Homo sapiens: one gene and its partner. The protein of the gene in region 1 purifies or fractionates together with the protein of each later gene. This does not show direct contact. Each region holds a gene or a part of one and is shown in the gene's direction. Other genes may lie near its edges.

The links.
Region 2: the proteins of RGCC (region 1) and TLN2 purify together in Homo sapiens (affinity purification with mass spectrometry; 3 studies listed by BioGRID and IntAct, with this or other methods). This does not show direct contact.

The regions. Positions count from the first base shown.
Region 1 is NC_000013.11:41,456,029-41,460,365, forward strand, and holds the start of RGCC (regulator of cell cycle RGCC), read left to right. Parts: upstream 1-1,521; 5' UTR 1,522-1,679; coding exon 1,680-1,728; intron 1,729-2,256; coding exon 2,257-2,442; intron 2,443-2,943; exon of another isoform or gene 2,944-3,211; intron 3,212-4,337. UniProt on the Homo sapiens protein: Modulates the activity of cell cycle-specific kinases. Enhances CDK1 activity. May contribute to the regulation of the cell cycle. May inhibit growth of glioma cells by promoting arrest of mitotic progression at the G2/M transition.
Region 2 is NC_000015.10:62,739,868-62,743,673, forward strand, and holds part of TLN2 (talin-2), read left to right. Parts: intron 1-762; coding exon 763-902; intron 903-3,806. UniProt on the Homo sapiens protein: As a major component of focal adhesion plaques that links integrin to the actin cytoskeleton, may play an important role in cell adhesion. Recruits PIP5K1C to focal adhesion plaques and strongly activates its kinase activity.

The DNA.
Region 1 (4,337 bases):
CCATTAGAAGTGGGTTGGCCATCAGAAGGAAGCCTGGACAGGTCCCTTGTTTCTAAGGCGTGGCACAAGGTAACTGGTAAAGATACCTAGACCAGTTCCCATACATAGACACTTGGTGACAGCTGGTGCTAGAACCCCCACAGTGGCTGAGGGCATGCAGCAGCAATACTAGTAGCAAAGGGACAGATAGCTAAGGAAGGATCCCGCTCCACTCACCCAGGGAAATCAACTCCTGAAGTTCTGTTCGACCCCACATCAGAGGATCCATTGCAGGAGATGGCACCAGAGATCCCAGTGGTGTCCTCCCCTTAACAGGGAAAGAGGCTCCCCACTCTTGAGCCCACAGTGCTTGTGCCTCCACAAGACAAGCATATCCCTAGGCCACCCAGAGTAGACAAGAGAGGAGGACTATTCATATGATTAGTGGTCATTAACATATACTCCTTTGTGAGGTGTATGTTTCAATGTTTTGCTCATTTTTAATTTTTACCAGGTTGTCTATTTGTGATTACTTTGTAGATGGGTCTTTCTATATTCTGAAAACAAATCCTGGCTGGGTGCGGTGGCTCACGCCTGTAATCCCAGCACTTTGGGAGGCTGAGGTGGGCAGATCACCTGAGGTCGGGAGTTCGAGACCAGCCTGGCCAACATGGACAAACCCCGTCTCTGCTAAAAATACAAAAACTAGCTGGGAGTGGAGGCTGAATGTTTCACTCCGTTACATGTTAATTGCTCTACATTTAATTAGCCGTCTGTGGTGAGAGGCGAGAGGCTAGCGCCTAGCTCAGCGCACAGTCCAGGGCGTTCGCCCCCGCAGGCCGCGGGGCAGGGTGGCTCGTTACTCCGTGGACACTGCAAGGCGCCCTGTTCGCGCTGCGTCGACGCAGTAGTTTCTTCCCATAATAAACCCCTTCTAGATAAAGTCAGGCTGGCGGGAGCGCCCTGGACCGTAGTTCAGGCCCCCGCGCTCCGCGGTGGGAACAGTTCAGGACTCCCCCAACTCCTGCCCCTCTCGCCCCGACCCTCTCCACTCCGCCCGCCCACCATCTCGGAAGTCCCCTTGGGACAATGCGTAGGGGACCTCCGCGTCCCCGACACCCGACTGGGACACGGCCGCGGGCTCCTTCGTCCCTCACCGCCAGCCAGGGAGGCTCTGCATGCCCACGTCCACTTCACAGCCGAGGAAGCTGCGGCTCGCGGAGGTGCCTGGCACGCGGCGGGAAGCAGCAGAGCTCGCGCCCAGCAGTCAGCTCTGGTGACGCCGAGGACACCGCGTGGGCCGGGTTGTCAGGGCGCGGGGGCGAGAGGCGGGTAAATATTTGGGGCTGTAACCGGGGCTTCGGCGACTCCTCGTCACCGCGGTTCCAGGGCGGGCGCGTGGCGAGGGCGGTGCCTGGGGGCAGGGGCCTCCTCGGAGGGCGGCGGGGACAGACCCGTCGCCCCGGCTCCGCAGCCCCGCCCCGGCCCCGCCTCCGCTCCGGCCGCCGAAGGCTATAAGATCTAGGAACCCGAGCCGGTGGTAGGGCGGGCGCGGACCGTGCTGGGAGCGGCGCGGCTGGAGCGCAGCGCCGAAGGGACTGGCAGGGCTGAAGTGTGCGGGACAGCAAGCCCCCGAATAGCCCCGGCTGCCACCTCGCAGGACCCAAGGCCACGCGCGCCGGGCCCAGCTGAGCCGCCTCATGAAGCCGCCCGCGGCGCAGGGCAGCCCCGCGGCCGCCGCGGCCGCAGGTGAGTGCGGGGTCCGGGGTCCCCTTAAAGTCTCGGCTCTGCAGATGGCGGGTGAGAAAGGAGGGGCCCCGTGTCGTCCCTTCACACCCCCCACCCTTCCATCCTCCCCGGCGGGAACCTGTCCCCGGTCTTCCCGCGCGGGCGGCTGCAGCCTCCTTTCCGGCCCGGGCTGGCCCCCATGTCCCACCTTCCCTCCACCACCAGCTCCGCGCGCGCCCGGGGTTGGGGGGAGCGGCGGGGACAGGTAACCGGCAGCGCCTGGGGAGGAATCTGGCCGCGCCAAGTCGCTGGGTGACCCTGGGCCTGGCGAAGGCTCAGTTTTCTTGTCTGTAAAACGGACTTGGTAATAGAACGCACTTCGGGGGTGGTGGAGAAGATTACAAGGTAACAGCGACTGCGTGGCTGTCACTTGGCAGAGGCGCCAAGTGTCAGTTATCTTCGGGAACCGTGGCGGCCCCTCCTGGCCCTGGGAGGTGGTCCCGCTGCCCCCCTGACTTCCGTGCACTGAGCCCCTGGCCCTGCCCGCAGCCCCGGCCCTGGACTCGGCGGCCGCGGAGGACCTGTCGGACGCGCTGTGCGAGTTTGACGCGGTGCTGGCCGACTTCGCGTCGCCCTTCCACGAGCGCCACTTCCACTACGAGGAGCACCTGGAGCGCATGAAGCGGCGCAGCAGCGCCAGTGTCAGCGACAGCAGCGGCTTCAGCGACTCGGAGAGTAAGTGCGGCCCCCGCTAGGATGGCGCCGGGATCTCCCAGCTCCCAGGACCTGCCCCGCGAAGGCTGCGGCCTCAGTTTTCTTATCAGTAAACTGAGGAATGGTTTCCTGAAGCTCAACGCAGTAGGCCGAGTGGTGGCGGGGCCCCTGACGATAATCACGGGAAAGGTCGCTGGAGGGCAGGTTGGTTCACTTGCCGCCCACGGGTGTGTCACCAGGCAGGCGAGTTTAAGCAGCTTGTCCCGACTCAGCCAGACAGGACTCCCTGGACCTGCACCAGGCCTTTCCGCAGTTTCCCTCCTCTTCTCCTTTCCGTGCCTCTCCCCTCTCAGCTGTAACTTTGCAGATGTGGAACAAGTGCCAGTGGAATGAGGGGGCACAGTGGGGACATGGGAGGGCGCAGAACGGAAATATTCATGAAACCAGGAAAGGTTTCATAAGCCCAAACTGCTGTTCTTGGGATTTATGAAATAACTGCTTGCATTGTCTTCTGGCCCTTAGCTCTCAGACTTGTTGCTCCATTGCATGCAGTTATGAAAATCTTTGGCACTGCTGAGTTCAAGTATTTTTCAGCCAGGTCCTCCACCAGGCTGGAGGGGGAGCCAGAGAGCACATGGGCATGAAGGTGGTTCCTGGTGATCTTTCTCACAATGGAGACTACCCCAGGGTCTCTTTGTCCTGAACAACTTTGTCAACAACAGCAACAACAACAAAAACAACAAAAGAGACAGCTTTTTCCAGGAACTCACATGTCCTGGGAGGATTACAGGTACCTCAAACAGCAAATTAGGTGCCTTTTTAATATTACATGATTGTTGGTTTCAAATCCAGAATTGCTTATTGTTTTTCAAAGGGCAAAGTCAATTTTAAACTCTTCTGTGTTATTCTTCAGCCTTTAATCCTTAGATGGGTTACAGGCATGAATGTCACTCCTTTTGCTGCCCTTGACTCAGGACGTGAAAGTAATGGCCTTTCCGTGTGATTCTCTTATTTTGAAACCTGGAGCTCTTCCTTGTTCCTGGGCTAAGATTCGGGGCTAGACATGAACATGAGCTGCCCTTCTGCAAAGGGATAAATGCGCTCACCACCCTGGTCAGGGTTTGACTCAGGAAGCTGAGTTCCAGCTTGTTTCCTTGGCAGCACTGCCAAAGAGTTAGACCAAGCTGCAGCTTTTGAGGTGAAAGGGGATGGAAGAAAGTACTGTTACTTTTCCACTTAGAATTTTTGGACTTTGTTCTTAATGAATAGGTTCATTTTCAATTTCAAAGCAAAGTGTTAACATTTTTGAAATTTGTCTCAATTCTAAAGGCCAAACTTAAATATGTCTCCTCCTACTGGGGCATGGAGCAAGTTATTCATCAAATACAGATTCTCGCATGGAAAAGAAAGCTAGGATAGTGTGTCGCTGCTGCTCTGTGGCAAAGAACAGCTCCTTTCTAAGCAACAGCCTCACTCTACTAGAATAGGTCTGAGCGCGCCCATTCATGGCTGATTGCAACTTCCACTGGGTGGGATTTCAGATCTAGAATCTGTTTTCAGATGCCTTAAAGAGAAGACATAGAAACACATTCTTAACAGTTTCAGGGGAGATAGTTGGGATAGTTTGTAGTTTTGCTTAGGTTATATGTGTCTGTTTTCTGCTTTTGTTGTTAACGGACTAACCCTTAGTTTGGTGGTTAGAGAAGTGATGGGAAGAACATAAAGAAAGCTCAGATGACATTTGTCTTTGCTTTAAATGTGTAGTTTTTCTCTCACAAGGCTAGTCAGAAATATTGTTGGCAGAAGCTGTGTGTATCTAAATAGTAATTTCTTAAGGAAGCATAATATGTATATCTTAATTGCTGCCAAGAATTGAGTACAGACATTTGTTATCCTCGTTTGTCTGTTTAATGCTT
Region 2 (3,806 bases), on another chromosome or scaffold:
GGGATAATACAATAAAAATATATATGTATTTGAGGTTTAATGGACCATTCAGATGGTCTGTGTCTAATACAGAGTGTCAAGTGATTAAAAATTACCTCCTTCAGATGAACAGATAAACCCCTTGTTTAGAACAAGGGAGCTTGACTGATCTGGTGTCAGCTTGCAGAGCTGTGTTTTTTGTTTTTTTTTTTTTTTCTGCGCTCCTTTGACCTCCCTAAAAGAGATAACCAGGGTGTATCTTCTTCTAGTATCTACAAAGAATTGTTTCTCAGATGGCAACCGGGTGAGAAATGTGTGCTTTCCCGAGTCAGGAACTTCAGGGATGCAGTCAGCTCTGAATATCGAGACAGTGCTGGTCGTTTGTGCCAGGCCGAGATGTACAGCTCCTTGACAACTCCAGCATTGTTGAGCAAGATGCTGGAATCGCTGCCTGGTCTGTGCATTGGCTCACAGCTCGCTCACTCTCCTCCCACCCTGCTCCCCGCTTAATGCCTCTAGTTGTGAGAAAAGCACAGCTCTTGGCTGACCCACTTGGGGATGGATTTCTTTCCCTGTGGCATGCATCTTGATCTGAGCATCTGTTTGGAGAAGGGTAGACACTGGTCAGTGTCTCAACGAGTTAGGCATCTGCGGGCTAACTGGGTTTAATGTGATCTATACGGATAACCTGCCTGCATGTCAGGATGCTGCTCCTAGCTCTCTGAATGCCTCCTTCAAGAAATGGACAGGCCCTAATAGCTCCGGCTCCTTTTGACCTTCCAGACAAAAGAAGACCAGATCCAAGTGATAGGGAACCTCAAGAATATCTCGATGGCATCCAGCAAGCTGCTGTTAGCTGCCAAGTCTCTCTCTGTAGATCCAGGAGCTCCCAATGCGAAAAATCTCCTGGCTGCAGCTGCAAGGTAGGAGTGGGACACAATGTGCTTTCGTGTGTGGTTAGACAGTGTCATTGCAGTCTGAAGATGTGCCTGACATCCTCCCACTTTTGCTGAGCAAAAGAATTGGTGCTGTCCTTAGGTCATGGGAGGTGGAGCTGAGAGTGATGGACACTCTGATATTTTATAAAACTGGCTCATTTCCATGTTCTTTCCCCACTAAAAATATCTTCTGTCTTCTCATACAGCCTTTTCAGTAGAGACTTGTTTAGACGTAAGGTCCATTTTGACTTGTAAATGCAATGAATTAAACAGATTTTTTTTAAGTAGCATTATATCTTTCTGATTATAAAATAGTATATATGCTTCTTGAAACATCAGAAAATACTGAAAAGCGTAAAGATGAAAAGCAGTGCTCATCAAGTCATTCAGCAGACTTTTATTGAGCACTTAACCCTGTGCCTGGCATCAGTGTTAGATTGAATGTAACATGTTGTATCTGTCACATGGGGAAGGCTCCACTTTAAGATGAGTAGGGAGGCAGTGGGAATAAATTGTTTTTGGAAATATATTAAAACATGAGTGTGAATTTTGGATGATTTGGGTGTCCTTCTTTCCTGTTGGTTTCACCCAGGGAAGTGGATAAAACAGTATAGTTTCTGCTCCAGGGCCACAAGTTAGTTCAGTAACTAGTGGTTGAATGTGGTATGTGGAGCACTGCAGTGACAGCCCAGGGGGTTCTCGTATCAGCAGCCCCTCTTTCATTTTCCTGAACCCAGAGAGTAGGGTGGTCATGATTCTGTGGTGGTGCAGGCATGTTTTTTTAGCATTATTTACCATCATATTACGTATAAGAAAGCTGACAGTGGAGAGAGATTAAAAGCAGGACTATTAGGGGATAGAGAGTAATTGGAGGCCTTTTTATAATGTGCAGATTCGTGATTTTTGAAAAGCATAGCTTTGATTCTGCTTTCCTTTTTTTAACTTGGTTTTTTAAAATTTGCGCGTGTGTGTGTGTGTGTGTGTCTTTATGTCTCCCCTGGGAGATCATTGGCTGTTTTTTAAATTGTCGGCATCAAGAGACCTGAATTATATTCCAAGCTTTAATACTTGACTAACTCAGTCGCATTGGTCAGGTTGCTCAGCCTGTCTAAACTTTCCCATCTGCAAAGTGGGGGTATGAACTACATCATCCTTAAAGCTCTCCTTAGCTCTCAGCACATAAGATCTCATGGTACTCATGGTCCAAACATGTCCTTCCTCCCTCTTGGCTTGTAGTGGGGTGTGTGTGTGTGTGTGTGTGTGTGTGTGTGTGTGTGTGTGTGTGTGTGTGAAGGGTTAGACACTGTCAGAGCAGTTTGCTTGCAAACCCTTGAGTTTCTTCATTTATTCCTGGAAGGTACATTTTAACTGCAAACAATAGCTAGAGCCACTAGGGGACTGGAAAATTATCTTCCCATCTCATGCTTTGTTCGTGACTGTTCTAGTAAATAAGTGACCTCCCTTGATGGTGGGAGAGATGGGAGGTGGGGTTGGGGGTGATGTCTGTTCTGTTGAGCAGCTGTTTCTGATAGAAAACCCCCTCTTGATCGTTGCTTTTTTTCCTACAAAGGAGCCTTTGGATAAGGCAACTGACATTTCCAGGTATCAGAACTCAGATGTTTTTCATTATCTTCAATTTTTTGCATCATTTCAAAATTACAGTTTCCAGCTTGGAATGGCTTCACTCTCCTAAATTGTGGGAAGGAGGGGGAATGTATAAATTGCCCTTTTGAAAGCCAGATATAGAAGGAAACAGAGCCGGAAAGAATATTGCTGGTGTATGGCTCTGTGAATAGGTGCAGGCCCCCTGGTGGTGGCTTCGAAGAAAGGACATGGGGAAAAGGGGAAAAAAAAAAGCTTTCGTTGCCTTTCTGTCCTGGCTTTTAGCAGTTGACGGAGAATTCCCAGCCTGGTGATTTCATAGCCAGGTAAGCACTTAAAAATCATCACATGAAAATGATTGTCTTGGGATGGAACTGTTGCGAGAAAACGCTGGCACATTCTCCTTGGTTTTTTGGCACATTTTGGCAAGCTTCTGCTCCCTGGGGCTGTTTCTCAGCAGAGACTCCAGCCAGGTCAAGAGGGTCAGGCAGGCTCCTCTTGGGACACAAAGCTCTGCCAGGCTGGGGTTCATTCATTCATTGTCTTATTCATTCATGTCTTCATTACATAGATTTTCATCACAGGCCTGATGTGGGTGACGCCCAGTGCTGAGTGCACACTGTGAATAAGACAGGGCCTGTCTTATTATGTGTGTCTTTATATCTTGTGTATTTATAACCCTCATTATGTGGCCCTGGTGGAGTTAGGCAGGACTCACCACATGCTCCGCTCATTTCATCTGGGCCTAGAACAGTCCTGCATAAAAGTGCACAGGAAGCTGGGCAGAAGGGATCTGATCATCATAGTCTCAGTCCTCAGTCCTCTGTCCTCCTTGTTCTTGAGACTGTCAGGTCCTGCCTGTCCTTCCTGTGTGTATCCTCAAAGTCCCCAGAAATGCCACTGCGGGGACCCAGGCCTGGACCAACTCAGCCCTGTCCCACTCCTGTGTTAACAGTCTCAAACCCCTTATTATTTGTGGTCTCTGTGGTCCTTCTTGCTCTGGGAAGAAAAGGTTTGCTTCTGGAGAAAAAAGTAGAGGATGTCTTTTTCCTCTGTTCTTAATTCTGCTTCCGAGCCTGGGTACGTTTTTGGGACCCTACCTATCCCCTTGGTTTTGGATGCCTAGGGGAGAGGAAGTCATTTGCTATTTAGTGCCTGGTTTGTTCATTTTCTTCCCGTGTAACTGTTTGGGTTCTGGCTCTTTTCTGACAAGTTGGGTGGAGCTGGAGACCCTTTGTCACCCATTCATCAGCCTTTTTCCCCCAACCAGGGGCTGGTCAGGTGCCC